Regions from separate parts of the Homo sapiens genome. Here all the other regions are linked to region 3. The links come from fine-mapping of genetic effects on gene expression. A gene starts in region 3. Each other region holds a variant in brackets. All regions are shown on one strand. Distances are between the middles of the regions.

Evidence for each region. PIP is the estimated chance that this variant, and not a neighbour inherited with it, causes the effect.
Region 1: its variant is the best candidate, but not a certain one, in a credible set for the expression of ADCK1 in lymphoblastoid cells (GEUVADIS, PIP 0.66).
Region 2: its variant is the best candidate, but not a certain one, in a credible set for the expression of ADCK1 in cerebellum (GTEx, PIP 0.63).
Region 4: its variant is the best candidate, but not a certain one, in a credible set for the expression of ADCK1 in naive CD4 T cells (Schmiedel 2018, PIP 0.89).
Region 5: its variant is the best candidate, but not a certain one, in a credible set for the expression of ADCK1 in whole blood (TOPMed, PIP 0.80).
Region 6: its variant is the best candidate, but not a certain one, in a credible set for the expression of ADCK1 in B cells (Schmiedel 2018, PIP 0.58).
Region 7: its variant is the best candidate, but not a certain one, in a credible set for the expression of ADCK1 in macrophages (Nedelec 2016, PIP 0.59).

The regions. Positions count from the first base shown.
Region 1 is chr14:77,691,127-77,695,521 of GRCh38, forward strand. It overlaps ALKBH1 (alkB homolog 1, histone H2A dioxygenase), which reads right to left. Exons shown (of 6, transcript NM_006020.3): 3 at 3,612-3,774. Among named protein-coding and RNA genes, the nearest start is that of ALKBH1, 15 kb to the right of the region's middle. The variant C/CA (reference allele first, on the strand shown) is at 2,080.
Region 2 is chr14:77,902,486-77,906,880 of GRCh38, forward strand. All of the region lies in intron 6 of ADCK1 (aarF domain containing kinase 1), which reads left to right. Among named protein-coding and RNA genes, the nearest start is that of ADCK1, 100 kb to the left of the region's middle. The variant A/C (reference allele first, on the strand shown) is at 2,097.
Region 3 is chr14:77,798,037-77,802,431 of GRCh38, forward strand. ADCK1 (aarF domain containing kinase 1) reads left to right here and starts at 2,073. Exons shown (of 11, transcript NM_020421.4): 1 at 2,073-2,134. RefSeq lists enhancers at 1,398-1,936, 1,937-2,475, 2,549-2,598, 2,609-2,688, 4,070-4,395 and a silencer at 1,999-2,358.
Region 4 is chr14:77,867,620-77,872,014 of GRCh38, forward strand. The region is part of intron 4 of ADCK1 (aarF domain containing kinase 1); the gene reads left to right. Among named protein-coding and RNA genes, the nearest start is that of ADCK1, 70 kb to the left of the region's middle. The variant A/G (reference allele first, on the strand shown) is at 1,977.
Region 5 is chr14:77,912,126-77,916,520 of GRCh38, forward strand. All of the region lies in intron 7 of ADCK1 (aarF domain containing kinase 1), which reads left to right. Among named protein-coding and RNA genes, the nearest start is that of ADCK1, 110 kb to the left of the region's middle. RefSeq lists an enhancer at 727-1,242. The variant G/A (reference allele first, on the strand shown) is at 1,922.
Region 6 is chr14:77,890,019-77,894,413 of GRCh38, forward strand. The region is part of intron 5 of ADCK1 (aarF domain containing kinase 1); the gene reads left to right. Among named protein-coding and RNA genes, the nearest start is that of ADCK1, 92 kb to the left of the region's middle. The variant A/G (reference allele first, on the strand shown) is at 1,927.
Region 7 is chr14:77,733,947-77,738,341 of GRCh38, forward strand. It overlaps SNW1 (SNW domain containing 1), which reads right to left. Exons shown (of 14, transcript NM_012245.3): 6 at 3,025-3,129; 7 at 1,991-2,060; 8 at 1,001-1,066. Among named protein-coding and RNA genes, the nearest start is that of SLIRP-OT1, 25 kb to the right of the region's middle. The variant C/CA (reference allele first, on the strand shown) is at 2,602.

The sequences.
Region 1 (4,395 bases), 110 kb before region 3:
AACAATCTCTAGCTACGCCATTCACTTTGGAAAAAAAAGAACAGAATTGAGGTACTCTAATTTTTTGAACAGTCCTTAAGTTCAAGTATTTTTTTTTAAATAATTTTTGTTTTTGCTTAAGTTCAAGTATTTCTTCTTCATTTCCTATTTAAAGTTTTTTCTTCCCTGACTATAGAATTCTAGAAAATTAAAACCAAAAGGATCTTAGAGGTCCTTTACTTCAGTGGTTCTCAATGTCAGAGGATGTTATGATACCTAATCAAAATCTCCAGGGGAACTGTTTTGAACTCAACAGACTCTCTCCTGTTCTGAGAGACTCTGGCAAAGTTGGGAGAGCTGCCAGGTACTGTCCACATGACCCTGACTGCCCATGATTCAATTACCTTGAATGGCTTATCCAGTCCAATACCTTCATTTCTTACATGAGGAAACTGAAGCACGTATCACATAGTGATACAATGAAAACTTGGCCTTAATCGATTTTCAGTGCTGCCAGTACAATGTCTTGAGCATATCAATTTCTTCCAACCCTTGACAACATAAGGTACGACCATCAAATTTTTTATTTCTGCTAATTTATTAGACCAAAAAAAAGGTATCTCACCATTGTTTACAGGATGATTTATTACAGAGATTCATCTGAGCTATCTTAAAAGACAGCTGGGATTTCTGCAGAGTCATATATCAGAAGGAAAAAAAATTACTTGAAAACACAGGCTGGTTTAATAGCAGTAGGTTCTCTTGGACTAATTTTACTTAACCACGATCTTCCTTTCCCCTGCTCTCAGTTGCGAAGAAGACACTACTAAAAGCTCATGGACAGGATTTTCCTCACTGCTCCTGTTGATACCATAACCTATAGACCAAGGTTTAAAAAAAACCACTGAATTTTACTTTTCCTTTCCCCTTAAGAAAATCTTCTCTTTACTCTGTTAGAATCGGCATGACAGTTTCTGAAAACTACAAAATTAAGGCCACGTAACACCAAACGGGACACAAAGTTGGTAAAATGGTTTTAACAGGCACTTTAAAGGACTTCTCACGTATTATCTTGTTTAATCCTCATACTATTCAATAAGGAAAGAACTGTTATGAGACACAGAAAGGTGAAGGAACTTGCTCAAGGTTACACAGCTATTAAGTGGTGGAGCTGGGATCTGAACACAGTCAGTCTGACTCCAGAACTAGTGCTCTACATTAGTGGTTCCCAACCTTTTTGGCACTGGGGACCAGTTTCATGGAAGAGAATTTGTCCATGGATGGAGTGGGGATGGGGGGTGGTTTGGGGATGAAAACTGTTCCATCTCAGATGAACAGGCATTAGATTCTCAATAAGGAGTGCGCAACCTAGATCCCTTGCATGTACAGTTCACAACAGGGTTCGCGCTCCTATGAGAATCTAATGCTGCTGCTGATCTGACAGGGGGCGAAGCTCAGGTGGTAATGCTTGGCTGTCTAGGTCTGCTGCCCCATGATTGGGGACCCCCCTGCTCTACATCACTAAAACCTTTACCATCTGGCCCAAATCCACCTCTCCTCCTTCATGTTTTACCAATTCCACCTACTCATGGCTTCCAGGAAGCATTTTCTATAATCTACCTCCAGCCTAGCTACTTAAGTGACCATTCCCATTATATCTTATAATGTCTGTCCCTGCACCTACCAAATTGTATTTATTTATTTATTTATTTATTTAATTTATTTATTTTTAGAGACAGTCTCTCCTCAGCCTGCCGAGTAGCTAGGACTACAGGCACACACCACTATGCCCAGCTAATTAAAAAAAAAAATTTTTTTGGGGCCGGGAAGTGCCTTACACCTGTAATCCCAGCACTTTGGGAGGCCGAGGTGGGCAGATCACCTGAGGTCGGGAGTTCAAGACCAGCCTGAACAACATGGAGAAACCCCTACCTCTACTAAAAATACAAAATTAGCCGGGTGTGGTGGCGCTTGCCTGTAATCCCAGCTACTCTGGAGGCTGAGGCAGGAGAATTGCTTGAACCCGGGAGGTGGAGGTTGCAGTGGGCCAAGATCATGCCATTGCACTCCAGCCTGGGCAACAAGAGCGAAACTCCGTCT[C/CA]AAAAAAAAAAAAAAAAAATTTTTTTTCATAGAGATGGGGTCTTGCTATGTTGCCCAGGCTGGTAACTCCAGGCCTCAAGTGTTCTTCTCACCTTGGCCTCCCAAAGTGTTGAGATTACAGGCATGAGCCACCAAGCCCAGACCCAAATTGTATCTAATTATCTGTTTGTAGGTTTTTGAACATAACTAAAGTACAAATTTCTTGAAGACAGGAACTGTTTTTTATCTGCCTTTGAATCTCTAACACTAAAGCACAGTGTCTGACACATAGCAGAAACTCAATAGATAACAACTGAATAAACGTAAGAAAGTACACATCCTATGCTCTTGTCTCGCAGGACGATTTATTCTGTCTTAAATATTGTATCTTTGCTCAGGCTGCTTTCTCTACTCAGTAGAGACTTTTTACTTTTCTGACTGGTAAACCCCTACTCATTTTTGAAGATTAGTTCAAATGGACAGTGAAAGGAGGATAACCCAATAAAAAAATCATTTTTTCAGGCCGGGCTTGGTGGCTCACGCCTGTAGTCTCAGCACTTTGGGAATCTGAGGCAGGGGGATCACTTGAGGTCAGGAATTGAGACCAGCCTGGCCAACATGGCGAAACCCCATCTCTACTAAAAATACAAAAATTGGTGGGGCGTGGTGGTGGATGCCTGTAATCCCAGCTACTCAGGAGACTGAGGCAGGAGAATCGTTTTAATCCAGGAGGCAGAGGTTGCAGTGAGCTGAGATCGCGCCACTGCACTCCAGCCTGGGTGACAGAGTGAGACTCTGTCTCAAAAAACAAAAAACAAACAAACAAAAAATCATTTTTTCTTCGTTCACACTTCTACCCTGCCTGGAATAATTATTTCCTCCTCTATGCTCCCACAGTATTTTTCTAAACCGCATCATAACACTTTCTGAGCTCTACAGTAATTATTCTCATAGGTAATGCATTCTTGCCAGAGACTATGCACTACTGAGTGCAGGGAGGGTGCCTTTATCTTTCTGTGTCCAACGCCTAGCATCATGCCTGACACACTACTGACCCTCATTAAGTATTTGTGGAATGAATGAATGAATGTTGAAGCATGAAGGTGAAAATATTAGTTATTCTCATCAGGAACAACTGACCTATCATAAAACGGCTAGTACCACTGAATCCATCTAGGAGGGTAGAAGCAAAGAGCTTTCGATGTTACCTTTCCTAGGATACCAAAAGCCTTCAAAGGAACTCACTTTAAGTAGAAAAAAATGGCTGAAGCTAATGGAAATGGATCATGTGATGATTAATGAGGATGAACTCAATTATCTAAGCTATGATAAGCAAGTCTTTAAAATGGATCTCAATTTACTATAACTGTCAAAGCATCTGTCCAAATGTTCCTGGGGAAAGAATACAATTGTGCTGTTTTTGCTTGGAAACAATGAAGGGAAAAAAAAACCCAGCCAGTCACTTTTACTGCATTGTTATAGAACAGTTCCTTCAAAGACCTGTGATGATCTGAGCTGAGTATTAACACTTCATTCTGATTGACAAGACTTACCTCAGGAACTCTTTGCTCTGTTCCCACAGATCTTGGGTCTCTTCTTTAGACATGTGTTTGTCCAGGTTACATACATTAGGTTTCTGGGAATATAACTTAAGGCACTGTTTCACCCAGTGCCACTGGTAACCTGGGAGGAAGGGGTTTGGGATAAAAATAAACCCTATACAAAAGATGGGTGGGAAAAAAAGAAGAGGGGGAAATTCTCCATCAGTTATTCAAATAATTTTGACATCTTTATACTCACTATTTTGTTATTTACTCCCCATATTTTTTTGGTCATGCTTCAAGTTAATGAACAGGTAGGTTTTGATGAACATTAGACATCTACCCCTATGCAAATGTGTCTGGCTTTCTGGGTATTCTCAAGAGAAATAAATATTCCACAACAACTGTTATCCCAAAGCAAACTTTAGAATTGGAAGTGGTAAAAGTACACCTCTAATTTTTATCAGGTCTTGACACTTAGAGTCATCCGAGACTTCTTTACCTCCCTATTTCATTTATTACAGGCATGATTACACGAAATCTTATAATGAATTTTAGCTAAAACATAGATTTGAAAGTCATCGTCTAATGAATGGCGTGCTCATTATTGGTCTATTTTCTCTCAGTTTCAAATCCACTCTTCTATACTTAGCTTCATAATATGGGGCTGAGACCCTGCCAGCTACATTTCTTATTTGCCAGCTGGCTGTCTGCTAACCTGTGCCTATAAGGGTCACTAATGGAAGACTGGAGGGCGGAAGTTGGTTCTAATGTAGCTTTTCCACATCACTAGAAT
Region 2 (4,395 bases), 100 kb after region 3:
ATAATGTTAACTAATTAGCATAATGCTATAGAGTCTAATACATGCTTCTACTTGCTTATTCCATTTCTTTTATTCCCAAGCTTGTTGCTGTGCTGGGAGCTGAGGTTTGTCCCTGCTCTGGAAAACTTCTCATCTAGTGGAGGGACAGACACAGCAATGTGTTGTTGCAGTGCAGGTTTGTTAGCACCATGACAGGCATTCATCTGTGTTTCTGTGGATTCCCAAGAGGAAGTACGTAATTCTACCCAGGATAAAGGGCTCTGGTGAGTGCTTCTAAGAAGTATTGACTATAGGCAATATATATTGATTATTTCTTCTTCATCAGGAGCTGCTGCATTGAACAGTCTGCAGGTACTATGGTGTTGAGTCCTTCCAGCAGGCATCAGCCCATATTGCAGAGGACAGTTTGAGTAGAGGAGCTAGGGCAACATCCCAGATTTTCTGACTTCAAGTGTGGTGCTCCTCTCAGGATACTCTGCTGCCATTTACCGGCAGGGGTGCCCCTCAGAGCCAGAACTATGAGCCAGACAGAACCATCTCCTCTACTGTTCCCATGGAAACAGCAAAATTGTCCCCTGGCTGGGGCCAACTGGCAAGTGCCAGACCAAGACATGCAATAATAACAATAACACACATTTTTCAAATGAAGATGCCAAATGGGTAAATAATGAATATACCAATTTGACCTGCTGTTTCCAAAACTTGCACACCCTTCCTAAGACAGTGGTGGAATTAAGGCTCTTGAGTAATTAATTTTGCCTAAACACATAACAAGGGGGAAGTGAATTTTGCACTGTGAACCCAGTTCAGCTCTTAAAACTGGAGATAGACTGCTTTTGCACACTGGCTCCCGATCACAACATCTGTGCATAATTAAGCCTCCGCAAAGACTTTACCTCTCAGTGTGTGAGGCATCTTCCGGTGCTTATGTGCGGTTTAAGAACCTCAGCCCTGTGCTATAAATCTCCCAGGCTCAGACAAGCACTGAATGCAAATATGGCGTCAGGGGGACTGGGAGAGGGTGAGGGGGCAGCTAGGCTGAATGATTAAGGCCAGGCTTAGTGGATCTGGCAGCAGAGCGTATGTGCCAGGGGATGGAAACAGGACAAGTGGTAGGGTTTGTGACTCACCTGGGGACAAGGTGGCAGGGGAGAAGCTTTATAACCACAGGGTTTGGGACTGGAAGTGATGAGACCATTTCTGTATGTGTGGAGGTGGGGATAGGTGTGCAGGGCCATGCCAGGGTTCCTTAGTGTGAGGTAAGGAGCCCAGGACTCTAGAAATTGTGGACAAACCCTGAGGAGATGTGCATGCTTTTTGGGAAGTATGATAACTTCCCATGAATCTCAAAGATTAGGAACTACAGATGGATAGTAATTAATATATAACTTCTTTTTTGCAGAGTGATTTATATTCTTTAATTCTTTAATTCTTACAACAGCCTCACAAGGGAGGTGCCATAATCACCCCCATATCATCAGTTGGGAGACTGAGGCTCAGAGCTATCAACCCTTTGGGCAGGGTCACAAGGCTTACCACTAAGGGGAGGGAATAGAGGTAGCCTGCTCCAGAGCCTGCATGTTCACCCTCCATATGGTTTTGCTCTGTGGGGAAGTTGTGAATTCCAGTGAACCGTCTAGAGCATAACTCTCAGCCCTGGTGTGTATCAGAGCCCTCTGTGAAACTCGATGTGGCTGTCCTAAGAGCAATCGATGTTTTTTCCAGCAGCTGCTAGTGTCTGGTTCCATGTTGAGTGCCAGTACTCTGCTCATAGTAGTGGGAAATGGGGGCGGAGGTGGGGTTGTGCTTCCACTGTAACCATTATCACCATATTTTTGGTGGAGAAACTGGTGTTCAGAGAGGTTATATAACTTACCCACAGTCACACAGCTTTTAGGTGGCAGAGCCGGGGCTCCAGCCAGCAGCCTGACTCCAAATCTGCCGGTCTGACTGCATGTCTCCAGGCCTTCTGCTGTGCTGGACTCAGGCTCCAGGAGGACTGTGGGCCTAGGGTGATGGGCACTGTCTCAGACAAGCCAGGCGCAGCCTGTTTCGTGGGCATGTTGACCAAAGCATAGAAACAAAGCAGAAATGTG[A/C]GGTCAGGGCCAGACTGTGAGGCTGAGGCCCAGGGTCTTGGGCTAAAACTTCTCTAATTGGTGCCCTCCTTCTTGGGGTCCAGATTGGCATCCGTGTGGGAGGCAGGAGGAGCCCACAGGAGGGAGGCCTCTGCTCTGTGGCAAAGAGGTAGAACCTGGACCCAGGGGTCCTAATGGTCAGGGTGTGACCCTGCTGGTGGGGCCGCTGAGCACCCTGGCCATGAGCTCCTTAGAGTTTCAGCTTGCTTTGTTTGGGGGTGGGATGGGGGAGTGCGGGGTGCTTATTGACTCTTTCAAATTTCTCTTTTTCATTTTTTCCTTCTTTGATGGAAGAAGCATAGGACAGGAAATGTGGGCGCTCACTTCACCCCACACCCCCAGGTCCTCCTGCCCATCTGGTGATTTAGGCGCAGCTCACTTTTTTAACTGAGCAGGAGCAGTTTGGCATTTTGCAGTCATTTCCATGTTATGTCTGTCCAGGGGCACCTGTGGTTCTGAAGCTCCCATGACAAATTCCACTGTTTCCCAGGTTTGATATTTTAGTCATTTCAGATTTAAGCAGCAGAAGCAAGGGGCACATTCTGTGGTTAGACTGGAATGGTGATGTTTGCAGGGAGACCAAAAAGGGGGAAACCGCAGTACACCCAGGACCCTGATGCACAAGCACAGAGAAGCTCCAGCCTGTGGGATTTCTGTTTCCACCTGTGACTCTTTCCTAGCTGGTTTTTTTTTTTTTTTTTTTTGAGATGGAATCTCACTCCCTCTGTCACCGTGGCTGGAGTACAGTGGCGTATTCTTCACCCACTGCAACCTCCGTCTCCCAGGTTCTAGCGATTCTCTTTCCTCAGCCTCAGTGATCTGCCCTCCTTGGCCTCTCAAAGTGCTGGGATTACAGGCGTGAGCCACTGCGCCCAGCCCCTCGCTGTTTTTTAAGCTGCCTCTGGTGGGGCTGGCTAGAGATTTGACCTCTTGTCTCCAGAGCCTTAGGGGCCCACTGTCAAAGGTAGGTTTACAAACAAACCCAAGGGAAGAATTTAACCCGAAAATATGTCCCATTCATTTGGAAGCCATGAACAAAAACAACAGGCAGGGCACGGTGGCTCACGCCTGTAATCCCAGCACTTTGAGAGGCTGAGGCAGGAGGATCTCTTGAGTCCAGGAGTTCGAGGCTGCAGTGCGCTATGATGATGCCACAGCATTCCAGCCTGGGTGACAGAATGAGACCCTGTCTCTAAAGAAACCGACAAAGCAACAATAGCAAACATGCACTCACTTTTTTAAAAAGAAACTTTTTGAAAAATGCCAAGCAAGTCTAAATTTTAAGTTCAAAGTATCAGTTTCACAGATTTCTCTATTGGCCCAGATTTTCAAATGGCAGAAACCGCAGTCAAGCAGCAAACCAAAATAACACCTTGCTTTCTGGTGGAAACTTTGTTCCAACTAGAGCATTTCACTTGTATGTACAGCCCCCATTTATCCTCAGAGGTCCTTACTGAGATAGGGCAGAAACAATTCTGCTTTCCAGTGAGGAAGACTGGGATGTAAAGAAGTTAAGTGGCTAGTCTAAGACACAACAGTATTAGCAGAATTAGGAACAGGAAATAGGTCTGTTGACTTGAGGGCCACTATGTTATTGCTAGATGAATTTGGGTGGTCAGGGTAAAGGAAAATCTTACTCTCCAAAACATTTGAAAAAGCTGCCCATGTTTCTTTATTTGTAAGAGGAAATAAACTCCTCACAATTTGGGGGAAACTCGGCATGCTGGAAGCCCAGTAACCCCTCCCTCCTGGCTGTGGGGGTACTGGTGGGTGTCCCTTGCTCACATGGCAGCCTGGTTGCATTCTAGTCTCTTGCCCGCTCCTGGAGAAATCTGTTCTCTTTTTGGTTTTTGAGTGTTATGAGAGTCAGAGAGGGTTGGAGAGTGTATGTTAGTAATGCATTTGTCTGTAGGCAACTGAAAGCCTCATTTAGAGTGCCTTAAACAAAAGAATTTGTTGTCTTCACATAGCAAGAAGGTTTGCAGTGGTTGCCTACTGACATATGGTTTTGGTGGTTTAACAGTACCAGAGCTGGCTTCTCAGATTTTTAAATTTTTTTATTTTTCCTCATTGTTGCAAGATGGCTGCTACAGCACCAACAGTCACATTCACATTCACTTTCGAGGCAAGAAGAGAAGTGGAAGAAGAGTAGCACTATGCAAATACCCCCTTTTTTTTAAATCAAGGAAATAAAAACCTTCCCAGAATCCCCTAGCAGGTTTCCATTTTTGTTCATAAGTCAGAACTATGTCACATGGCC
Region 3 (4,395 bases):
CCAGCCTGGGCAATATAGTGAGACCACACCCCCCAGCTTTTCTTGAGAAAAAATTTAAAAAATTTAGCCAGGCGTGGCAGTATGTGCTTGTAGTCCCAGCTACTCCACAGACTGAGGCAGGAGGGTACCTTGAGGACAGGAAGTTGAGGCTACAGTGATGGAGCCTCTACACTCCAGCTTGGGCAACACAGCCAGACCCTGTCTCAAAAAAAAAAAGAGAAATGTTTTTGATACATGTCTTCAAAGTGCATCTTATAAGTCAACATTTGATAATGGAGATCAGTGAATGAATGAATAAGGGCCAAAGATAACTAAGATTAGCTAGCATATTATATTTATTTATTTATTTATTTTGAGACGAGTCTTGCTCTGTTGCCCAGGCTGGAGTGCAGTGGCCCAATCTCAGCTCACTGCAACCTCCACCTCCTGGGTTCAAGCAATTCTCCCACCTCAGCCTCCCGAGTAGTTGGGATAACAGGTGCCCGCCACTATGCTGGGCTAATTTTTCTTTTTCTTTTTTTTCTTTTTGGAGACAGAGTCTCACTCTGTTGCCTAGGCTGGAGTGCAGTGGCGTGATCTCAGCTCACTGCAACCTCCGCCTCCCGGGTTCAAGCGATTCTCCTGCCTCAGCTTCCTGAGTAGCTGAAATTCCAGACGTGCACCACCACACCAGGCTAATTTTTGTATTTTTAGCAGAGACAGATTTCACTATGTTGGCCAGGCTGGTCTCAAATTCCCGGCCTCAAGTGGTCCGCCCACCTTGGCCTCCCAAGGTGCTGGGATTACAGGAATGAGCCACCGCACCCGGCTTAATTTTTCTATTTTTAGTAGAAATGGGGTTTCACTATGTCGGCCTGGCTGGTCTCCAACCCCTAGCCTCAGGTGATCTGCCCGCCTCAGCCTCCCAAAGTGCTGGGATTACAGGTGTGAGCTACTGCGTCCTGCCCAGCCAGCATTATTATTATTATTTTTGAGACGGAGTTTCGCTGTTGTTGCCTAGGCTGGAGTGCAATGGCGTGACCTCGGCTCACCGCAACTTCTGCCTCCCGGGTTTCTAGTGCCTCAGCCTCCTGAGTAGCTGGGATTACAGGCATGCACCACTAGGCCTGGCTAATTTTTGCTATTATTAGTAGGGACGGGGTTTCTCCATGTTGGTCAGGTTGGTCTCAAACTCCCGACCTCAGGTGATCTGCTAGCCTTGGCCTGCTGGGATTACAGGCGTGAGCCACCGCCCCGCCAGCATACATCAATTGTCAGTAAATTTCTTCTTCGCCTACTAGTTCCAATATCTTATTTAAAATCTATGGCCCGGTGAGGTGGCTCAGGCTTGTAATCCCAGCACTTTGGGAAGTCAAGGCGGGTGGATTGCCTGAGTTCAGGAGTTCAAGACCAGCCTGGGCAAAATGGCGAAACCCCGTCACTCCTAAAAATACAAAAAATTAGCAGGGCGTGGTAGCACACTCCTGTAATCCCAGCTACTCAGGAGGCTGAGGCAGGAGAATCACTTGAACCCGGGAGGCGGAGGTTGCAGTGAGGCGAGATGGGCCACTGCACTCCAGCTTGGGCGACAGAGTGAGACTCTGTCTCAAAATGAATGAATGAATGAATGAATGAATGAATAAAATCTACGAGGTCGGGCGCAGTGGCTCACTCTTGTAATCCCAGCACTTTGGGCGGGCGGATCATTTGAGGTCAGGAGTTTGAGACCGGCTTGGCCAACATGGTGAAACCCCATCTCTAAAAAAAATACAAAAATTAGCTGTACTGCTTGGGCGACAGAGCGAGACTCAGTCTCAAAAAAAAAAAATCTACAAATCCACTTCATCTTTCATTAAACACGAACCTGGGACGTAGTTAGAATGTCTTGAAGAAAATATTTCAGTAATATTCCAAGTCCGTCGCCCTGGCAAAGCAACAAGGCCACCTGACGGAGTAAGCCCGAGACCCCTGTGCCTCCACAGTACTGCCCGCGGGATCGCGGCGTGGGGAACCAGGAACTACAAGTCCCGGCAGGCCGCGCGCGCCTCGGCTTCACTAAGCGCAGTCAGGTGGCTGTCCCCGCACGGTTCCCAGCTAATTCCCCGCTACCGGGTTGCGGCCGGAAGCCGGGCGCCGCGGCTCTGCTTCCCTCGGGGTGAGTAGGGGCAGCTCGCCGGAGGCCGGCGCAGAGCTCGGGCCGACCAGCCTGGCAGGGCCGCACCGCGCCTGGAGCGCGAGGGAACCGGCATGGACACGCCGGGAGTCGGCCTCTGCTCCGGTTGTGCAGCCGCCCTGGGCGCCGGGAGGGACAGCCCCATGACCTTGTCACCTGGGCCCGGCGCGCGGCCACGTGGCTCGGGTGACTCGCATTGCCCCGCCCCCCTGCAGTGACTTCTCCAGTTTGGCACACCAGTGGGCTTTCATGTGACCTGTCCACTTCAGTGGCACAGTCTTGCAGGCACCCGAGTGGGCAGAGCTGGAGGAGGGCCGGAGGTGGCTCACCCAGACGCCTTCACCCCCTGGTGGCCCTGTGAGTTCCGAGGCAGAAGCAGCTGGAGCTGGAGCGTGGTCTGGGCAAGAGCAGGGGGCGATGCCCATATCCTGGCCCTCCACCCGGTCTTGCGAACGTGCCCCAGACCGCTGCTTATCTCCAGCATCTTGCAGGGCCCTGGGCTTCCAGATCACACAGTAGATATGTGCTAACAGCAGCCAGTGTGTGTGGAGAGCAACCTTTAGATAAGACACCTAGAACAGCCCTCTCCCAGGGTTAAGTGGCATTTACTTTCTACTAACAAGAAAGTCATTCAACAAGTATTTATTGTTTACCTCCATGATACTTGGCACTTAGTAGGTGCTCAAGAAATATTTGCAGAGTTGAAGTGAATTAGACTTTATCTGTGGCTTCATATGTTTTATTTAATAATTTTCTTGGGGCTGGATGTGGTGGCTGATGCCTGTAATCCCAGCACTTTGGGAGGCCAAGATGGGAGGATTGCTTGAGGGCAGGAGTTCAACACCAGGCTGGGCAACATAGTGAGACTCCCGTCTGTATTAAAAGAAAAAAAGGAAAATAAATAAAATAATTTTCTTACTACAGTGGTTCTCAAACTTTAGCATGCACCAGAGTCACCTGGAGAGCTAGTAACAACACACAGTACTGGACCCCATCCCCAAAGTTTCTGATTCTGTAAGTCTGGTATGAGGACCAAGAATTGGCGTTTCTAACATGCACCCAAGTGATGCAGTTGCTGTTGGTCTGGGGACCATACGTTGAGTACCACTGCTTTATAGGAAAAAAAATCCTGTGAACTTAAAGCACTATCTCTTCACACCTGGTTACGGGTCTTTCTGTCTTTATTTGCCAGTTTTACTTTTTTGGTGATTGTAAATATGTGCATATTACTTTGTACACTGTTAACTCCCTCCATATTAATTTATATACAGATTTTAATGTAGTCTATACTTGTCATTTTTCCTGGTTACATCATATTCTACCTTATTGGGTCATTCTTTGCTTGGCCATTTCTCAACTGGCCTCAGGGATGTGCGATTTGATCTGTACTAGAAGAGTGTGCATATTCTTACTTTCTGCTATGCAGTCATTTTCTTGTCAGACAAAGGACCTGTAAGAATATTAGTTGGGGCCGGGTGCGGTGGCTCACACCTGTAATCCCAGCACTTTGGGAGGCTGAGGTGGGCGAATCACTTGAGGTCAGGCGTTCAATGCCAGCCTGGCCAACATGGTGAAACCCCATCTCTACCAAAAATACAAAAAAATTACCTGGGCGTAGTGGTGTGTGCCTGTAGTCCCAGCTACTTGGGAGGCTGAGGAGGAGAACAGCTTGAACCCGGGAGACGGAGGCTGCAGTGAGCCGAGATCGTGTCACTGCACTCCAGCCTGGGCGACTGAGCAAGACTCCGTCTAAAAAAAAAAAATTTAGTTGGGTCAGCCATCCATTTCTTCACCAGGGTAACTCACTAAATATGCCTCCTGGGTTAAGGTTTCCATGTTGCAGGGACTCCAGTGGCCTATTTCAGGGCCCAGCAAGCTGCTTGTTCTTGTGCACTTTTTGCTCTCTTGGTGGGAGCAGTCATACATGGATTCAAGTTCTGCCTCCATCACTTACCAGCTCCTTGGCCAAGTTTTCTACCTTTTCTAAAACACCACTTCCTTATCCATAGATTGAAGCTCTAATAGCATGCACCTCGGAATCTGGTTGTGTGAGTTAATGAGCTAATAAGTGCTTGGTACTGTAGCTCTCCCGTTGGAAGCTCACTCTCTTCTCTTACCTGCTGCTTGCTCTTTGCATCTGGCTTTGCCCTATTCTCCCTCAGTCTGCCTTTCCTAGGATGGACTGAATGGAGGATTTCTATTCCTTGCCTGGGTGAGAATTATTTTTGTTGTCTATTCTGGGA
Region 4 (4,395 bases), 70 kb after region 3:
ACTGCGGGAGAGGCAAGGCAATGGTCGAGGTGGCCCTGGCTTGTGCTTCCTGCTGATGCCCCATCTGGCCCGACCTTCTCCCTGTGACCACTGCCCTCCTGCAGGCCTGTACCCTGTCTGTGCCCTGCTCCCGGCCTGTGTCCTGCACCTTGAATCCTGGTGTCACCATGTTCTATGTCATCCTGGGTAAGTTTTGTGATTTTGCTGAGCCTTGGTTTCCTCATGTTTAAACAGGGATGATAAGAGAGCCTTCACATGAATAGGGCTGTGGTGAGGAATGAATGCTATAGCCCAGCCAAAGTGCACTGCCTGGTGAATGGTAAATGCCAGTTCACTGTCAGCTGTGCTTGTTACGTGTCGAGTTGTTGCGAGAGCAAAATTTGGCAGTTAAGACCAGCACCCTCATCTTGTATCCAGCACCTTGCCTGGTGCCTCGATCTTCCTGAGGTTTAACAAATACTGACTCTGTTTGTTCACCTTCTGTTGTTCAGTGGCAAGTGCTTTGGACAAAAGTTATCTGGGAGAATCACTCATGGGTTGTGAGGGCTTATAAATCATTTAGTGCGACCCCCACATTTCACAGGTGAGGAAACTGAGGCTCAGAGAGGGGCAGTCACTTGCTTAATGACACAACTGGTTGGTGGTAGAAACAGGACTAGAACCCAGGTCTCCTGATTCCTGATCCAGTGCTCTTTCTCCTGGACTATTCTGTTTCAGATGGAAGCTCAGTGCCCGGAAGAGAGGGCAGCACTCAATCGAGCAATCGGGCTGGGCTTGCTGTCAGAGCCACCCAGTGGGCCTCCGTAGCTTGCATTGTCCTTGGGACCTTGTAGTTTCCTGCGGACTTTGAGGAAGCCATATTTTCCTAAGTCCAGGATCCTATGGTTCTTTTTGTCCTTCTTCCAGTCTTTTGTCTTGCCAGTGGTTTGGGGTGATTATACTAATGTGCTCACCAGTTCACTCTCAGTCCACAGGCTGCACGTGGGGTGCCTCCCCTTTGTTGGGATCTAGTGCTCAGGGTCGTGCCCAAGCCCTCTGATCGGCTGGTGTGTCTGGATTGTTCCATACCCACTTCCTGCAGATAAAAGGCCTCAACCCATGGTGGCCCCATTCACTAACCCCGGGAAGGTTGGGACCCACCACTTGTTGGTTTGCTTACCTAGAGAATACAGATTTGTAGAGCAACTGCTATTCTCTTACCCATGTGCCACTGCAGCGGGGGATATACAGAATGTTAAAGCTGTGCCCCTCCCTCCAAAGCCAAGCAGGCAGAACCGTGCACAGAGGGAGTAATTAGAGAACAATTAAGCCCTCAGCTGTGGGGCTGATGGTTGGGAAGTTCAGGGGAAGTTCAGAGGCGGGTTCCTGGTGGTGGGGGTTTGGGCTTTGAACTGGTCCTTGAAGGGTGGGTAAGATTTGAGGAGGGGAATTCTGAGGGCACACAGGGTTGGCAGTTGGTGGTGAGTAATGACCACAGGTAATTCAATGCCCAGAGAGCCGACAAGCTGGCCTGGAGTGGCAGGGAGCTTTGGTTGGATGGCGTATTGGTTTTCTCGGGCTAGCCGCAAACCTCTGGCTTAAACAACAAATGTATTGTCTCACAGTTCTGGAGGCCAGAGGTCTGAGATCAAGGTATCAGCAGGGTGGGTTCCTTCTGAGGCCGCGAGGGAGGATCTGTTCTAGGCCTCGGCCCTAGCTTCTGGGGGGTTTGCTGGCAATCCCTGCTGTTCCTTGGTTTGGAGATGCATCTCCCCAATCTCTGCCTTCATCTTCACATGGTATCCTCTTTATGTGGGTGTCTGGCTCTGTGTCCAAATTTCCCCTTTTTATAAGGACACAGTCATGTTGGATTATGATTGTGCTATTCCAGTATGACCTCATCTTAACTAATTATTAATATATCTGCAATGACCTCATTTCCAAATAAGGTCACATTCTAGGCTGGGGTTAGGACTTCCACATATGAATATTTATGG[A/G]GCACAGTTCAACCCACAACAGATGGGTGCATTAGGTCTTCTGTGGTTGTAAGGATCTTAACTCCAACTTGAACTAGCTAAGGCAAAAAAGGAGATGTGTTACATTGTAGTTAGGGTTGGGCTAGAGTTGGGCCTTGGGGTGTCTTCTGGGACTCTTGTATCTCTCCCAGCAACTTCTGTCTGTGGGTCAGCCTCATTCACAGCTGCTTCCCTCCATGACCAGCTGCCATTGACAGCTTTTAGCCTCACCTCTTCTCAGCTTCACACCTAAGAGGGCCTGACCCTGCTCCCCAATTTCAGGACTCTGATTGACTTAGCCTAAGTCAGATGTTGTACCGGGTTAAATAGTGTCCACTCCACCCAGCCCCACTTTTCTTTATAAATTACCCAGCCTCAGGTATTTATAAAAACGTGAGAATGGACCAACACAGATGGGTAAAGGCAGACAAGATGGTAGGTATTAGTGTTGGTGGATAATAACATATGGTTGTGTTTATTTGGTACTTGTTATGTAGTGTGCATTGGCTGGATGTGTTACAGATATTGTTTGTAACCTTTACAATAACTCTGTAAGGCTGGTAGATTACCATTCTGGTTTTCCATCTGAGGAGGCAGAGGCCCTGAGAAGGTAACAGCTATGTTCATGTAGCCAGTAAGAAGCAGAACCAGGATTTGAGCTCTGATGACATCTCCACTCTTCCCGCTATGCAGCTCCTAGCCCTGCAGAAGGGCTGGTTTCTGGGGGACGTTAAAGAGAGCCATAGGCATTGGGTCTTGCTGTGGCAAGTTTTAGGGTATCTTCTTAGGCCCCAGGTCTTAGAAGTAAAGTCAAATCAGCTAATAGCCTGTGTGTTCTTGTGTGTGCCCAAGACTGATAAAGAGACATTTTAGGCAAAGTGAGCTAATGGTGTAGGACGGATGGAGGGAGCCAAAGGAGGGGCCCTGCGAGGAGGCTCTTTCCATCATCCATATCTTGCAAAGGTGAGCTCTCCCTATGGAACCTTTTTAGCTGTCTCCCTAAGCTGGGGCAGGTGCCATTTTTTTCTCCCCTCAACATCCCCCTGGAGCTCAGAGCGTGAGTGTCCCAGGTTGGGCAGTGAGTCAGGAGGCCATAGCCTGGAGGACAAATGCCATGGTTATGGCTCTTGAAGGACTTGCCCTGGCAGTTGGCCCCATGCCTTCTAGGACTGCCACAGGGGTCACAGAGTCCTCATTTCCTCCCTGACTGGAACTCGTGGCCTTCCCTCTCTTCTCCAGGGAGAAGGGGAACAGGTCTCCCCTGCAGGCCACTCAGGGCTGGGGCTGTCAGTATGGGCAGGGTGGATGTGATTGCAGTGGCTTCTGATGCCTCTCCCTGTCTCCTCGTGACCCAGAGGTCTGTTCTTCCTCGTGGCAGTCCTGGGAGAGGGGATGGCTTTTTGGAGGAGCCTCAGGCCTGCCCAGATGTACAATGAACATACTGGCCAACATGGCCAAATGAGTGAGGAATACATGCTTGTCTTAGTTTGGGCTTTCCTAAAAACAAACAATAATTTGAGTAAAAGTGATGTTGTGGGATGCTCAGATGTTGCCAGTAGGGAAGTGGGGATGTGGTTCAGGAAGGGGGAGGCAGCTGGTAACTCTCTGCTCTTAAACCAGTGGCTACTGTGGGCAAAATCAGGTTAGTCCTGTGGGCAGACTGGGAAATGGTGTCAAATACGTACCTTTCACCCATCCCACCCAAGGGCCAAGGTAGGATATTCATTCATACACCAACTTCCTAACTTCTTCTTTTTTTTTTGAGACAGAGTCTCACTCAGTTGCCCAGGCTGGAGTGTAGTGGCATGATCTCTGCTCATGGCAACCTTTGCCTCCCGGGTTCAAGCGATTGTCCCGCCTCAGCCTCCCAAGTAGCTGGGATTACAGTCATGCGCCACCAAGCCAGGCTAATTTTTGTATTTTTAGTAGAGACAGGGTTTCTCCATGTTGGCCAGGCTGGTCTCAACCTCCTGGCCTCAGGTGATCTGCCCATCTTGACCTCCCAAAGTGCCCGGCCCTAACTTCTTTAACTGACAGCTGCTCCTGGGAGCTGATACTTCCTGAGACTTGGAAGTCCCAGGGAGTCTCTGGCACAGATGCAAATCCTGGGGGTCATGCAGGAGCTGAAGGGGAGGTCTGAGGGGAGCAGGTGGAGCACTGTCAGGGCTAGGCCAGCATCATCTCAAAGAAGCCTCACAACTGCTCTGTGAGAGTAAGTACTGTTTTTATTATTCCTATTTCACAGAGGTGCAAACTGAGGCCAGAGATGTTAGGTCTCATGCCTAAGTCACTCAGAGAGCGTGAGCAGAGTCAGGTCTGGCTTCAGAACCCAGGCTTTCTAACCCCAGCATTCCATGGCTCTTTGCAAAGGGTCCTGCGCTTTTCACAAAGTTTTCTCATC
Region 5 (4,395 bases), 110 kb after region 3:
TGGAATCTATTTTGTTTCATTGGTCTATCCTTGTAATGCCACACTATGTTAATTTCTTAATCCCCAGTCCCTGGCTTTTAGGCTTTGCATGACTTGGTAGCTCTTTGGCAGTCTGAGATGATGTTATTAAATACTTCCGCAGAAACCCCCACAGTGGGCTATGGGCCACTATGGTGCTCTAAGTACTGTCACTTACCATCAGTAGTGTTGGGAGTAGATTAGGGACAGGCCTTACTCTGAATAAATTAATCTATCATGTCTCTTACCAACTAACATCAAAGCCACGGCCTTGAAGACTACGGAGGAGCGTGTGTGTGTGTGTGTGTGTGTGTGTGTGTGTGTGTGTGTGTGTAATGAAAGAGTCCACAATCCTGAAAGTTTCAGATAGACTCCTGAGGTTCTAAAGTCTCCTTAGGACTGTGGTACTCAGCGAGCCAGCCCTGGAGTGACTCCCTCCTGAGGGCAGCCTGGCTGTGAGCATTCCTTGGGGAGGGAGGTACAAGGGCTAGATAGGAGTGACAGGGGCGAAAGTCTTACTCTGAATCCTAGGGTGTAGTGTGATTAGTGGCATCTTAGCTGCTATAAGCAGATGTCTATCCTGGAAGATGGCTGTAGAAGGGACCCCTCTTGAGGTGGGTGGGGATGGCTCCAGAGCCCCCAACCACTTGTTGTATCAGCCTCACTCCGCTTTGAAGAGGCCTCCTCACCCTACAGCATCCCAGTCCCACTCGGCCCAATAGACTTGGATAGGGAAACAACAGTTTAGCAGGCAAGAGGGATAGGTTCAATCTCTGTCCTGCTGGTAGCTTGCTGTATAACCTTAGGCAAATCACATCCTCTCTCTGGTCCTCAGTATGCTTATTGAAGGTGTGGAACTAGCTAGGCTCTAACCAAGAACATTGATTCTTCAGCTTGGTGGGAGCTAAGACTTGTTCACCAACCATCTCTTTTAGAATCACTATAGGGGAAAAAAAGGAATCACCAGGGGAGCTTATTTAACAATGCAGATTCCTGGGCCCTACTCCAAACTCACTAATCCAAATCCGGGGTGGAAAGGATTGTAGAAGTTTGCAAGAATCTGCATTTCAACAGACTGTCCAGGCGGTTCAGACACTCACTGAAGTTCAGGACTCCCCATACTGAAACATGAAGCCAGGGGCTCAGGCCTTGCCAGAAGTGCCATCTGCGCTCACCCTGCTGATCTGCACCTCCAGGCCCGAGACAGCCCTGCCCAGGGGTGCCCACCTGCCAGCAAGCACGGGCCTCGGGAGCCAGCAGCCTGCAGGGGCCCTCATTTGTTTGTGTCTGTGAGCCCAGAAGCAGATATTACCAAGGGCCTGACCTGGTGATCATATTTGCCAGTCACTTTAAGAGCTGGCGACAATGACTGTCATTGATCTCATTAAAAGTAAAGGTCGTGCAGGAGTCCTCTTTCCCGGGCTGGGTGGCGCCTCCCCAAGCCACAGAACAACTATTGATTGCTGGACCTTTATCGAAGGTTAATTGGATTTCAGTGAGTCTGTGTTTAAGATCCTGCCGAGGCTGAGGTTCAATGTAATTTGTGTGAAATTAGCCAAGAAAGAGGTGACAGAGACAGGAGTGTAGGGGCAGCAGGGACAGATGACTGGAGGTCTGGTGGGCAGACACTGCTGTCCGTGAAGATTGGGGGTAGTCCTGGGATGGGGTTTTAGAAGGGACACCAGCCTGGCTGTCCCAGAGACGTGGGATCCAGGAGGCGAGAGTGCCAGAGCTCCTCAGTGGTCATTATGTGGACTTAGGTTCAGTCCCCTGTCCTTGGGGTGGTGCTGCTGGTGTGTGGTGCAGCCTGCAGAGCCTGTCTGTTCCCAGAGCATCAGTCTCCATCTTCTGTCAGGGTCGGGTGGGGATCTAGGGGTTTAGCTGGTACTTTTAAAGTCTTTCA[G/A]TTAATCTTTCTTTTTCAGAACCCCCAAATCTCATTTTCAGAGGTGCTGGAGTCCCTCAGTTTCTGAGCCTGCTTGAGGCTCAGCAGTAATAATTATAAAGCTCTCCTGTTGCCAGCTTAGGGGTCCATGTTTTCTAGCCTGCTGAGTCACTTCTCAGTAGCTCCCTGCAGCAAACACAATTTTGCTTATCTCACTTTGCCTTCTGTTGTTGCCTCTCTATTCTTTTCTTGTTGTGGTGGGGTCTTTGCCTTCTTTACTACTTTTAGAGTCACTTTAGTGGGGTTCGTGAAGGAGTAGAGTCCGTGGCCTGGGTTCCACCTGCCATGCTTAGCCAGAAGCCCTTGCTATGCTTCTTCTAGTAGTTCTTAATTCCATTCTGTGTCATTGCAGGAGCAGCGAAAAGGTCTCACATTTGCTTTCAGCAAATGATTTCTCGAGCAGCTACCATGTGCAAGCACTGAGTGCACTTGCTACAATAGAGGTGTGAGCAGAGTGTGGGAGAGGGTGGGGCTGGGTGAGGCTTTATAGAGGTTGGGTCCTGGGTGGGAAGAGCAGAGGGTTTCAAAGTTAGGGCCCCTGAGATTGTGTATTGGCTGGTGCCCTTGGGTAAGCAACATCCTCTGAGTGTGAGTTTTCTCATCTATGCAGTTGGAGAGATAACATCACTTACTGCATAGGGTCATTGTGTGAATTTTGCAAACTGTGAAGTTTTGTAAAAACAATGTTACTGTTACTTATAATTCATGCGTTCATGGTTCACAGAGGCATGTCTTCCTCCATAGAATCTTCGAGAATCCTCTTTGCTCCCCTTCCTGCCCACTTACCTCTATTTTCTGAGTATAAAGACTTGGAGTTGGGTAATAGTCATCTATTAAGCATATGGTACCCCCTTACCCCCACTGTAAAAGCCATGCTGAAGTTTCTACCTTTCCCCTTGTCACCACCTCCAGTTGAATAGGACATTTGCATTTTGGCTCAGTGTCATTTTTCCCCTGCTGGGCCTGTCTGGCTGTCTGGTAGAAGATGCCCAGACCAACATAGAGCAGCTGCGGAGGCATGAAGACCTTCTACCAAAATCACCAGAAGAAAACATCTTCTTCCATTGTCCATCCCTTCATTGCTTCTTGGACCAAATCTTTTTTTTTTTTTTAATACTTTAAGTTTTAGGGTACATGTGCACAACGTGCAGGTTAGTTACATATGTATACATGTGCCATGTTGGTGTGCTGCACCCATTGACTCGTTATTTAACATTAGGTATATCTCCTAATGCTATCCCTCCCCCCTCCCCCCTACCCCCAGCCTACAACAGGCCCCAGAGTGTGATGTTCCCCTTCCTGTGTTCATGTGTTCTCATTGTTCAATTCCCAACTATGAGTGATAAATTATGCTGCTATAAAGACACATGCACACGTATGTTTATTGTGGCACTATTCACAATAGCAAAGACTTGGAACCAAGCCAAATGTCCAACAATGATAGACTGGATTAAGAAAATGTGGCACATATACACCATGGAATACTATGCAGCCATAAAAAATGATGAGTTCACGTCCTTTGTAGGGACATGGATGAAACTGGAAACCAACATTCTCAGCAAACTATCACAAGGACAAAAGGACCAAATCTTTAAAAGAGCTCAGGGATGTTAGAGGGGTCCAGGTGTATGAGATGAGTTCCTGGAAATTTATTTCCTCCACAGCAAAGGTGTCAGGAGTGAGTAACTGTGTTGTTGTGGAGTTGGCCTTCCTGGATTCAGGTGTTGGCTCTGCTGCTTATAAGCTGTGCCACCTTGGTGAAGCTACTCACCCTTTTGAAGCCCCAGTTACCTTTTGTAAAGTGGGATACAAGAGAGTAACCCACTGGATCGTTTGATGACTGAAACAGAACGCTTGGTACGGTGCCAGGCCCAGCATATGTCCTCATCACATGTTGAATTATGCTGAATTCCACCCCTTGGAATTTTGTGGTGTCATGTGGTGCTCGTAGTACATTATGTGCCAAAAGATGGGGGGAAACATGTAGGGAAGAAACCCTTTCCCCATTTTTCATATTGACCCAGGTAAGGTGGAAAGATAGGAAAGTATTTCTTTGGACTGAGTTGTTGTCCAAGGCCAGAGATGCCAGATGTCTCTGCTTTTCCTCCCTTTCTCTGTGTCTTCCCATAGCCAAGGTCCCTAGGACCCCTCCCACCTGCTCTGGTATCTGGGTAACTTTAATGAATGTCTCTGGCCAGAGACTTGAGGAGGCTCTCTGGCCAGAGAGACTCATTAAATACCCCATGCCATGCCTCTCTGTGATGTTCCTTTTCAATCCTAACCTAGAGAAGCTTTCACTAGGTACCTAGAAGCTCCAAAATTAGAGTAACTTCCCAGTTTCCTGTGATTTTACTCAGCATCTCTTCTTTCTATTTATTTATTTATTTTAATATAGGTTTTCACTCTCACCCAGGCTGTGGTGCAGTGGCACGATC
Region 6 (4,395 bases), 92 kb after region 3:
AAAACCAGGATTGAGCAATGCTGCTATATTCAGTGGAGAAAAGTTAAAGATGAAAGCACTATATTAGTTATCTAATGCTGCATAATGAGTCACCTCAAAACACAGTGAGCTTAAAACAACAGTCATGTGTTTTGCTCATGAATTCGCAGTTTGGCCGGGGCTTGGTAGAGAAACTCATCTGTTTTATGCAGCTCTAGCTGGAGTAGCTTGACTGGGGGCTGGAGTGGCTCATTTCCTGGCTGGCAAGTTGGTGCTAGCTGTTGTCTGGGAGCTTAACTGGGGCTGTGGGCCAGGGCCTTAGTTCCTCTCCATATCAGCCTCTACATGGCTGCTTGGTCTTCCTCACAGCATGGCGGCTGGGTTCTAAGAGCAAGTGGCCCAAGAGAATAAGGCTGAAAGTACATCACAGTTTTATGACTCAGCCTTGGAAACTACATAGGATTACTTCTTTCTTACTCTTTTGGATGAAGCAGTCACAAAGGCCCCCTTAGTTAAGTTCAGGGTTGGGGAAATAGACTCTACCTCTTAATGGGAGAGTGGCAAGGTTCTAGAAGTGAATTAGAATGGGAGGTACTGTTGCAGCCGTTTTGGAAAACATAGTCTGCCAGAATTCCTCAACGTTGTCATATGGGAGATCAAATCAGTAAAGCACTGGAAAGGGTATTTTGGATCTGGCGATTTAGGGTGGTTAGAAAGAGCAGCTACAGTGGCCTGATCGGGGTGAAAAAGAATTGAGACTCAAGAAAGTGGAGACTCTTCATGGAGAATGTACTGTTTTCAGATATTTAGCTGTGGAAGGTTTGGGAGAGTTAGGGTAGTGGTCAGAGCAGAGCATAGGATTAAATACTGAGGAGACTTCAGTGGAATCGTAGCTGATGGGGAAGGGGGCAGGTTGGGGATTCAGCAGAGAGAAGTAATTGCTAGATCAAGTCCTAAGGGAGATTCAAGCGACTGGGAATGAAGAACACAGGTGGAAACCTTAGCCTTTGTTTCGAGCCCAGTGGAAGGTGGGAAGGCTGGGTACAGATGAGTGTGTGGGGCAGAGGAGAGGGGGAGGGAAAGTGGGCAGCAGAGTGTGTAGCAGCCTGATAGCCTCTATTTTTTCTCTGAAGTGGGAGGCAAGACCATCTGCTGAGAATGAGGGGGTAGAAGGTAGCATTGGAGACTCGAGGTGGGTGAAGGTTTGGAACAGCTACTGTGTGCAGTGGAAGGGAGCTGACCAGGGCAGGAGAGCAGGATTGCTGGGTGGCCCTGAGCATCCGCCTACAAACCTGATTTTTCTAGCACACCTGTCAGCAGCTGTGGAGCAGCCATAGCTGGGAGAGACCTGGGAGACTTGGAGGATCCCAGGGTTTCCTGAATCCCAGAAGCCACTCCTGAGTCAGGCAGGAAGCTGCCTCTGCGTAGTAAAGCCATCAGGGCCCACTTGGACAGTGAGGACAGCTGTCGCTTTTTCTTTGCGTTTTCTTGCTGGCTCCCTAAGTAATGGTTGCTGTAAGGTCAGAGCAATAATAGCAGTAATAAAGATTTGGCATCTTCCTCCCTGAGATAAGCATCACATGCTTTTCTTGGGAAGCACAGCCTGGCAGGCTGTGTGCAGAGTACAGAGTGGCTCCTTAGTAGTGGCTGAGGCAGTTCTGGGGCTGGGACCACAAGGCAAACCTGAGACCCGCACTCATACCCTTCAGGAGAACAGCTGGAATGGAGGCCTGAGGCCACCACCCCATGGATCATCAGGATTAGCAGCAGCACTGGGTAACACTGCCATCTCACTGGGCTTCGTCTCTGGTGGGAAAAGTCCTGCCTGGGTCTTTCTCTGGTACAAAACCAAGAAGGGCCCAACTGGAAAGCTCGTACTTGAAGTGAATATTTTGTTTTTCTGTGTTGAGACCTAAATGGTGTCTTATATTTAGGAATGACAATCCA[A/G]GAAAGGTATTAAGCATTTTTGGCTTGAAGAGTGATTTCTAGGGGACATTTAGGGCTACCAGAAACTTAGGGACAGAGAGGAGGAAAAGCTACTTTTCTGCATAGCCTCTACGTCTCCTTTCATGCCAACTCCAGGTGTGGTGTGCCCTTATGCTTCTCTCCCACTGTTGTACACTCTCCTCTGCCCCATAATTGATCACAGCCTGGTCTTAAGAGGAAAGCAATCTGATGAAAGCAGTTCACAGTAAAGAGAGTGACTGATAGGCTTAACCTCTTTATATTTGCATCTTAAGAGGTGACCTTCTACACCCAAACTCATAACTACTGTGCATTTACAGGGTGATAGAGGTCTACAGGGGTGAGACTTTTGAGAGCAAGGGGGTGGTGACTACTGGTTGTGTCAGGTGGGATGCTTTCAGTTGGCTCTAAGAATCAGAAAATCCAACTGAAAGTGGTATAGCTAATACTAACCCTTATTATCTCACATGTGAAGATGTCTGGAACTTGGGTCAGCTGTTCCAAGGCTGACAGCCCAGCACCTCATTGTTTGTAATGACTCAGACTCTTTCCATGTTTCACTCTGCTATCTCAGCTTCCTGGCTCGCCCTCCTGAGCGAGCACCGCACGTAGTCCCAACACAGCTGCAACAGTTCCTGGTGTTACAAGTAGGGGACATCCTCATATTCTTTATCAGAAAAAAAAAAAAAAAGAGATCCCTAGCAGAGTTCCCTTCATTTGTTATTGTCCAGAAGTAATGCCCACTCCCAAATCAGTCTTGGCAAGAAAACTGAGACCACCTTGATTGGCTTAAACCAATCATGACTCACCTTCTCAGACCTGCTATCCTTGAAGGACATGAAGGATGTACAAACTTGGGGTTGTGTTAGCCAGGATGATGGGGGAGATGGCTGTTGGTTTGGCCTCCAATAGCATGTACTACCCTAGAGTTTTGTGTCTACTCTGAACCTGGCAGTTTTGTGTCTCCTGTGAACCTTCTCCCTTGGAGAGGGGAGAGAGCCTCTAGGATAGACTGTTGAAGGATGGCAGGGAAGGGAGGCTGATTCTCAGTAAATGGTGTTCAGTGAATCTGATGGTGTCGATGACTTTGCACAAAAGAAAAAGGCAGAGCCAGGGATGTTTTTTCAGCTTTGTCATTATCACCTGATATTGTCCCTTTAATAGTTGGGGCAACTCTACTTCTAGATGCACGGCCAGTGACTCTTATTGATTTGAATGGCTGTCCAGAGCCAGACTAATTGGGCCCAGAGATTGGAACAATGATTCAGCAGGAGGGGGTGAACTGATGAAGCATAGTCCATCCGTCTGCTGGCGGGCTGGCTTTGCAGCAGTTCTTTTCTACCCACAATATTGGGGAGCTTAGCGGGCCATATCTCACTGCCATTCTCACTGCTTGAGGGCAGGGTAGGACTCAGATGATCCCTGAGCTGGGGGACTACCATAATCTCCAGGTCCTAATCACCCTGTATCACTCCCAGTTATTTCTCCAGCTTCTGAATTGATGAGGAACACTCCCTTGCCCTCTCACCCTAAGGAATCTAACTCATTGCCAAGTACTATGCCCTTCATGCACTACTGGGCCCCAAGGTGCTCGGCTATGTTGGGGTGGGACTCTTTGGCCTGAGCACTAAATCTGATCTATTGCTTGATGTCATCTGGCCCATCCCAAGGGTCTCAAAAAGTGAAAACCCATGGCAGTCATGTTTTTGACCTTTTCTGAGCAGCATTTTCAGTGCATTCTGTCTACCATCTTGTTTCTTCCCTTCCTTCCTTCCTTTTTTTTTTTTTTTTGACAGAGTCTCACTCTGTTGCCCAAGCTGGAGTGCAGTGGTGCGACCTTGGCTCACTGCAACCTCCACTGCCTGGGTTCGAGTGATTCTCCTACCTCAGCCTCCCAAGTAGCTGGGATTACAGGTATCTGCCACCACGCCTGGCTAATTTTTGTATTTTTAGTAGAGACGGGGTTTTGCCTTGTTGGCCAGGCTGGTCTTAAACCCTGACCTCAGGTGATCTGTCTGCCTCGGCCTCCCAAAGTGCTGGGATTACAGGCGTGAGCCACCGCGTCCAGCCTCATCTTGTTTCTTTACTAAATGTGTTGTTTGAACAGTGGGTGGCTAGGCAATGTTTATGTCGGCACAGAATCCAACAGCGATTTTATTTTTTAAAATATATATTAAAAAATATCCAGAGATGTGGGCCACCCAAGGAAACTTCTCTTCACCCTATAAATCTGTTTTCTAAAAAGCGTGTACTTTAATAACTTATCAGAACAAAGATAAACCCCGTGAATGGCAAGCTATGTACATCACTCTGAACTGATTTTCGATCCTTGTTGAACGTTCATTTTTACCAGTTTGGATCGGTACAGGCATTCTATTTAGTGTGCTGTTTTCCCATGGAACATTATTTCTTTTATAATGTACAGTAACTTGATAACAGTAACTTGCATTT
Region 7 (4,395 bases), 64 kb before region 3:
CATAATAAAATGAAGCATTATAGAACCAGCTCAAGATACCATCCAGTTACAAAATACCAATCAACTCAAATCAGACCAGTCGGCAACCTCTTTGTTTAGGGTGAGTATATAAATTCTCTTAAGAAACCTGAAATGGTCTTCTTTATCCATCAAAAATAAAATCATGAACTATGATTCAGGGAAGATGAAACAGTAACTAGCAAATCTATCCCACAATCTACAGATTCTTAACAACTCCTAGAAACTTTGGCAATTATTAGAGATATATAGCTTAAGCCTTCACTACTACAGAGCCCAGTAGTTGAATATTAAAGCACTTAAAGTATCCAAGCATTTACTCTGTTCTTTTGTCATATAATCTTTTACATCAGTTTACTTTCTTTTAGAAATAATTTTTAGATATAAATTTGAGTTTTCTAAATACCATCTTGTATTTATATGACACTTTATTCTACTTATTCCTTCTCTATGTGCTTCTGCTAGCTACAATTCACTAAAAGAACTGATATGGGGCCGGGTGCGGTGGCTCACACCTGCAATCTAAGCCCTTTGGGTGGCCGAGGCCGGCGGATCACAAGGTCGGGAGATCAAGACCAACCTGGCCAACAGGGTGAAACCCCGTTTCTACTAAAATACGAAAAATTAGCCGGACGTGGTGGCATGCGCCTGTAGTCCCAGCTACTCAGGAGGCTGAGGCAGGGCAATCGCTTCAACCTGGGAGGTGGAGGCTGCAGTGAGCTGAGATCATGCCACCGTACTCCAGCCTAGTGACAGAGCGAGACTCCGTCTCAAAAAAAAAAAAGGAACTGACACGGTATTCACGTGCCTGGCATACTAACATTTCTATTACATTAAAAAAGTCACCAAATTGGGCATTCCTTTTTGAAAATGCTCAGTTAAACCACGTGTTGTTTCAACTACAGTTATGCAGGCTGTAGTTGTTTTACTGGTGTTTTCCAGTAGGTTATACTAATAGAGACTGATTTGACAACTTAATTACCTTTGCATTTTTCCAGTTAGAAATACAAGGAGGAATCTTCCACTCTTGTTGTTCCTTTACAGTCATCTGAGAGAAGAGGGAAAGAAGAGACAAGTTTAGATTTATAGTCTACAAAGTAAATCTAAGTATAATCTTTATCTTCAAAGACAGCTCCATATACACTGACATATGCACAGCCGTAGTAAAAGGCCAGCAGTCCATTTGTTTGCTAGCACTAGTTTACCATATAATTCTAGTAATAACTTTGAACTAGTGTGAAAAATGGAAAATAATCTAGAAATTATTCTTGACAGTTATAAATGTTGGCTAGTATTTTTCCATATTTAAAGTGATGTGACTTTTTTCTTTTTTTTATTGAGACGGGGTTTCGCTTTTGTTGCCCAGGATGGAGTGCAATGGTGCAATCTTGGCTCACCACAACCTCCGCCTCCTGGGTTCAAGTGATTCTCCTGCCTCAGCCTCCCAAGTAGCTGGGATTATAGGCATGCGCCACCATGCCCAGCTAATTTTTTTTAAAGTAAAGACGGGGTTTCTCCATGTTGGTCAGGCCGGTCTTGAACTCCCGACTTCAGGTGATCTGCCCGCCTCGGCCTCCCAAAGTGCTGGGATTACAGGCGTGAGCCACCACGCCCGGCCGATGTGACTTCTTTTGGATGAAAAATTGTTCTTTTGATTAACAAAACATATCTTAAAAAGTCAAATTACCAGGGACCTAATGAACCCATATATTCACTTCCTATAACATCCTTAAACTGAAACAGCAGACCCTGTCCATTCCATTAAAAGTAGGGTTTGCATTACTAATAACAAAACTTACAGCTAACATGTTATATACATTCTCATAAGCATTCTTGAAACTTCATCTTGAAAAATAAAAAAAGAAACTACAAGTCAGTGTGGTGACATGCACCTGTATAGGCATAGGGAGGTTATCTATAAAATTAATAACCATGAGTAGAAAAAAATATTTTGGACTACAGCAAAGAATACCTTTCGGCTAGGAGAATGCATGACAGGCGCAGGAGGAGAAGGTGGTCCCCGGGGAATTTTCTTATTAATCCTGAAGTATAAAAACACAACCAGAGAGTGATATAGTTTCCTCCCTTTTAGTCATCATATCAAGTCTCTCCTCCTTTTTCTTGCATAAAAGTTTCAAACATAGACAAAAACAGAGACTGTATAATGATATACATTTACCACTCCACTTTGACAATGAATAAAACATGGCCAACTTTGAAACTGTTACTCACCCCACCTCCACAACATTATTGTCATTTTGCAGAGTAATATACTTTTTTCCACTTTAAAAAGCAGCTTTAGGTCGGGTGCAGTGGCTCATGCCTGTAATCCCAGCACTTTGGGAGGCCAAGGTGGGCAGATCGCCTGACGTCAGGAGATCGAGACCATCCTGGCTAACATGGTGAAACCCTGTCTCTACTAAAAATACAAAAACTTAGCTGGGCATTGTGGTACACGCCTGTAAACCCAGCTACTCAGGAGGCTGAGACAAGAGAATCGCTTGAACCCAGGAGGCAGAGGTTGCAGTGAGCTGAGATCATGCCACTGCACTCCAGCCTGGGTGACAGAGCGAGACTGTCTCT[C/CA]AAAAAACAAAAACAAAAACAAAAACAAAAACAAAAAAAGGCAGCTTTATTGAGATAATTGACATTTATTAGCTATACATATTTAAAGCATACGATTTGATTAAATTTTGACACAAATATGCACCTGTGAAATCATCATCACAAGCAAGATAGTGAACATGTCTATCATCCCCAAAAGTTTCTGCTTGCCCCTTGCCTATTCCTCTTGTCCCTCCCATCTCCTCTCTGTCCCTACCTCCTTCCCCAGAGGCAACCACCTATCTACTTTCTGTAACTATAGGTTAGTTTGCATTTCCTGGAGTTTTAGATAAATGGAATCATACTGTATGTACTTGTTTTTGCCTGGCTTCTTTCACTCAGCATATTGTTTTGAGATTCATCCATGTTATTGTGTGTATTAGTAGCCTATTCCTTTTCACTTACTTGAACCTTGGAGGCTCCATTGGATCTTTCTGCATTTCTACCATCCGAATAACCCTCTGTTTAGCTCCAGAGTTGAATGCCACTCCTTGCTGAGATGGTGTGTATCTGAAGAAAGCAGATAAAAACTAAAGGTGTAATTAGTTCAAGCTTTCAGTAGGTATTTTCCTTCTATTACAATCTTAAGCTAGACTACATTTTCAATTCCTTTCGCAAAGTATTAACAGAAAATTAACAAAATATTTAGACAAAGCAGACAGCAAGAGGGATAAAAGAACATAAATTATGAGTTACAGTCAAAATATAAACTTGAGTGGTATTAGTTTGCAAATAACCCATCCTCATATGTTTTCCAACATGGAAGGTGCCGTGTTCAGTTTCACAGATAAGCAGTCTAGAAAATAGTACCTATTTAGTATGCCTGCATCTGAGGAAAAAACACTCATAATAATCCCAGCAGGCAACTTACGGTTAGCAGTTTTTGATTAATCATAGGTTATAAAACAGAGAAAAGAATAATGACAGCAGCCCTACCAGCTCTGAATTTTTCCTCAATATCTGTATGTGATTCAATTCTCTATGCAGATTTAGTCAAGTAAAACGCCTCAAAATTTAGAAGTATTATAAAGATATCTATTACTTATAAATGGAAAACTATAAATAATAATTGTGATTTAGGTCATATACCACAAGTAACTGTTAATTTCTAAAAACAAAAAATATAATTTGAAAATAGCATAGGGCCAGGCCGGGTGGCTCATGCCTGTAATCCCAGCACATTGGGAGGCCGAGGTGGGCAGATCATCTGAGGTCAGGAGTTTGAGACCAGCCTTGGCCAACGTGGTGAAACCCTGTCTCTACTAAAAATACAAAAATTAGCTGAGCATGGTGGTGCAAGCCTGTAATCCCAGCTACTCAGGAGGTTGAGGCAGGAGAATCGCTTGAACCCAGGAGGCAGAGGTTGCAGTGAGCCAAGATTGTGCCACTGCATTCCAGCCTGGGTGACAGAGTGAGACTCCATCTCAAAAAAAAAAAAAAAAAAAGAAAATAGCATAGGCTGGGCACAGTGGCTCACGCCTATAATCCCAGCACTTTGGGACCTGAGGAGGATGGATCATTTGAGTTCAGGAGTTCGAGACCAGCCTGGCCAACATGGTGAAACCCTGTCTCTACTAAAAAAAATACAAAAATTAGCCAGGTATGGTGGTGGGCACCTGTAATCCCAGCTACTCAGGAGGCTGAGGCAGAAGAATCTCTTGGGAGGCAGAGGTTACAGTGAGCCAAGATCACACCACTGCACTCCAGCCTGGGCAACAGAGCAAGATTCTGTCCCCCACCCCAAAAAAAAGCATAAAAAGAGGCCAAGTCTGGTGG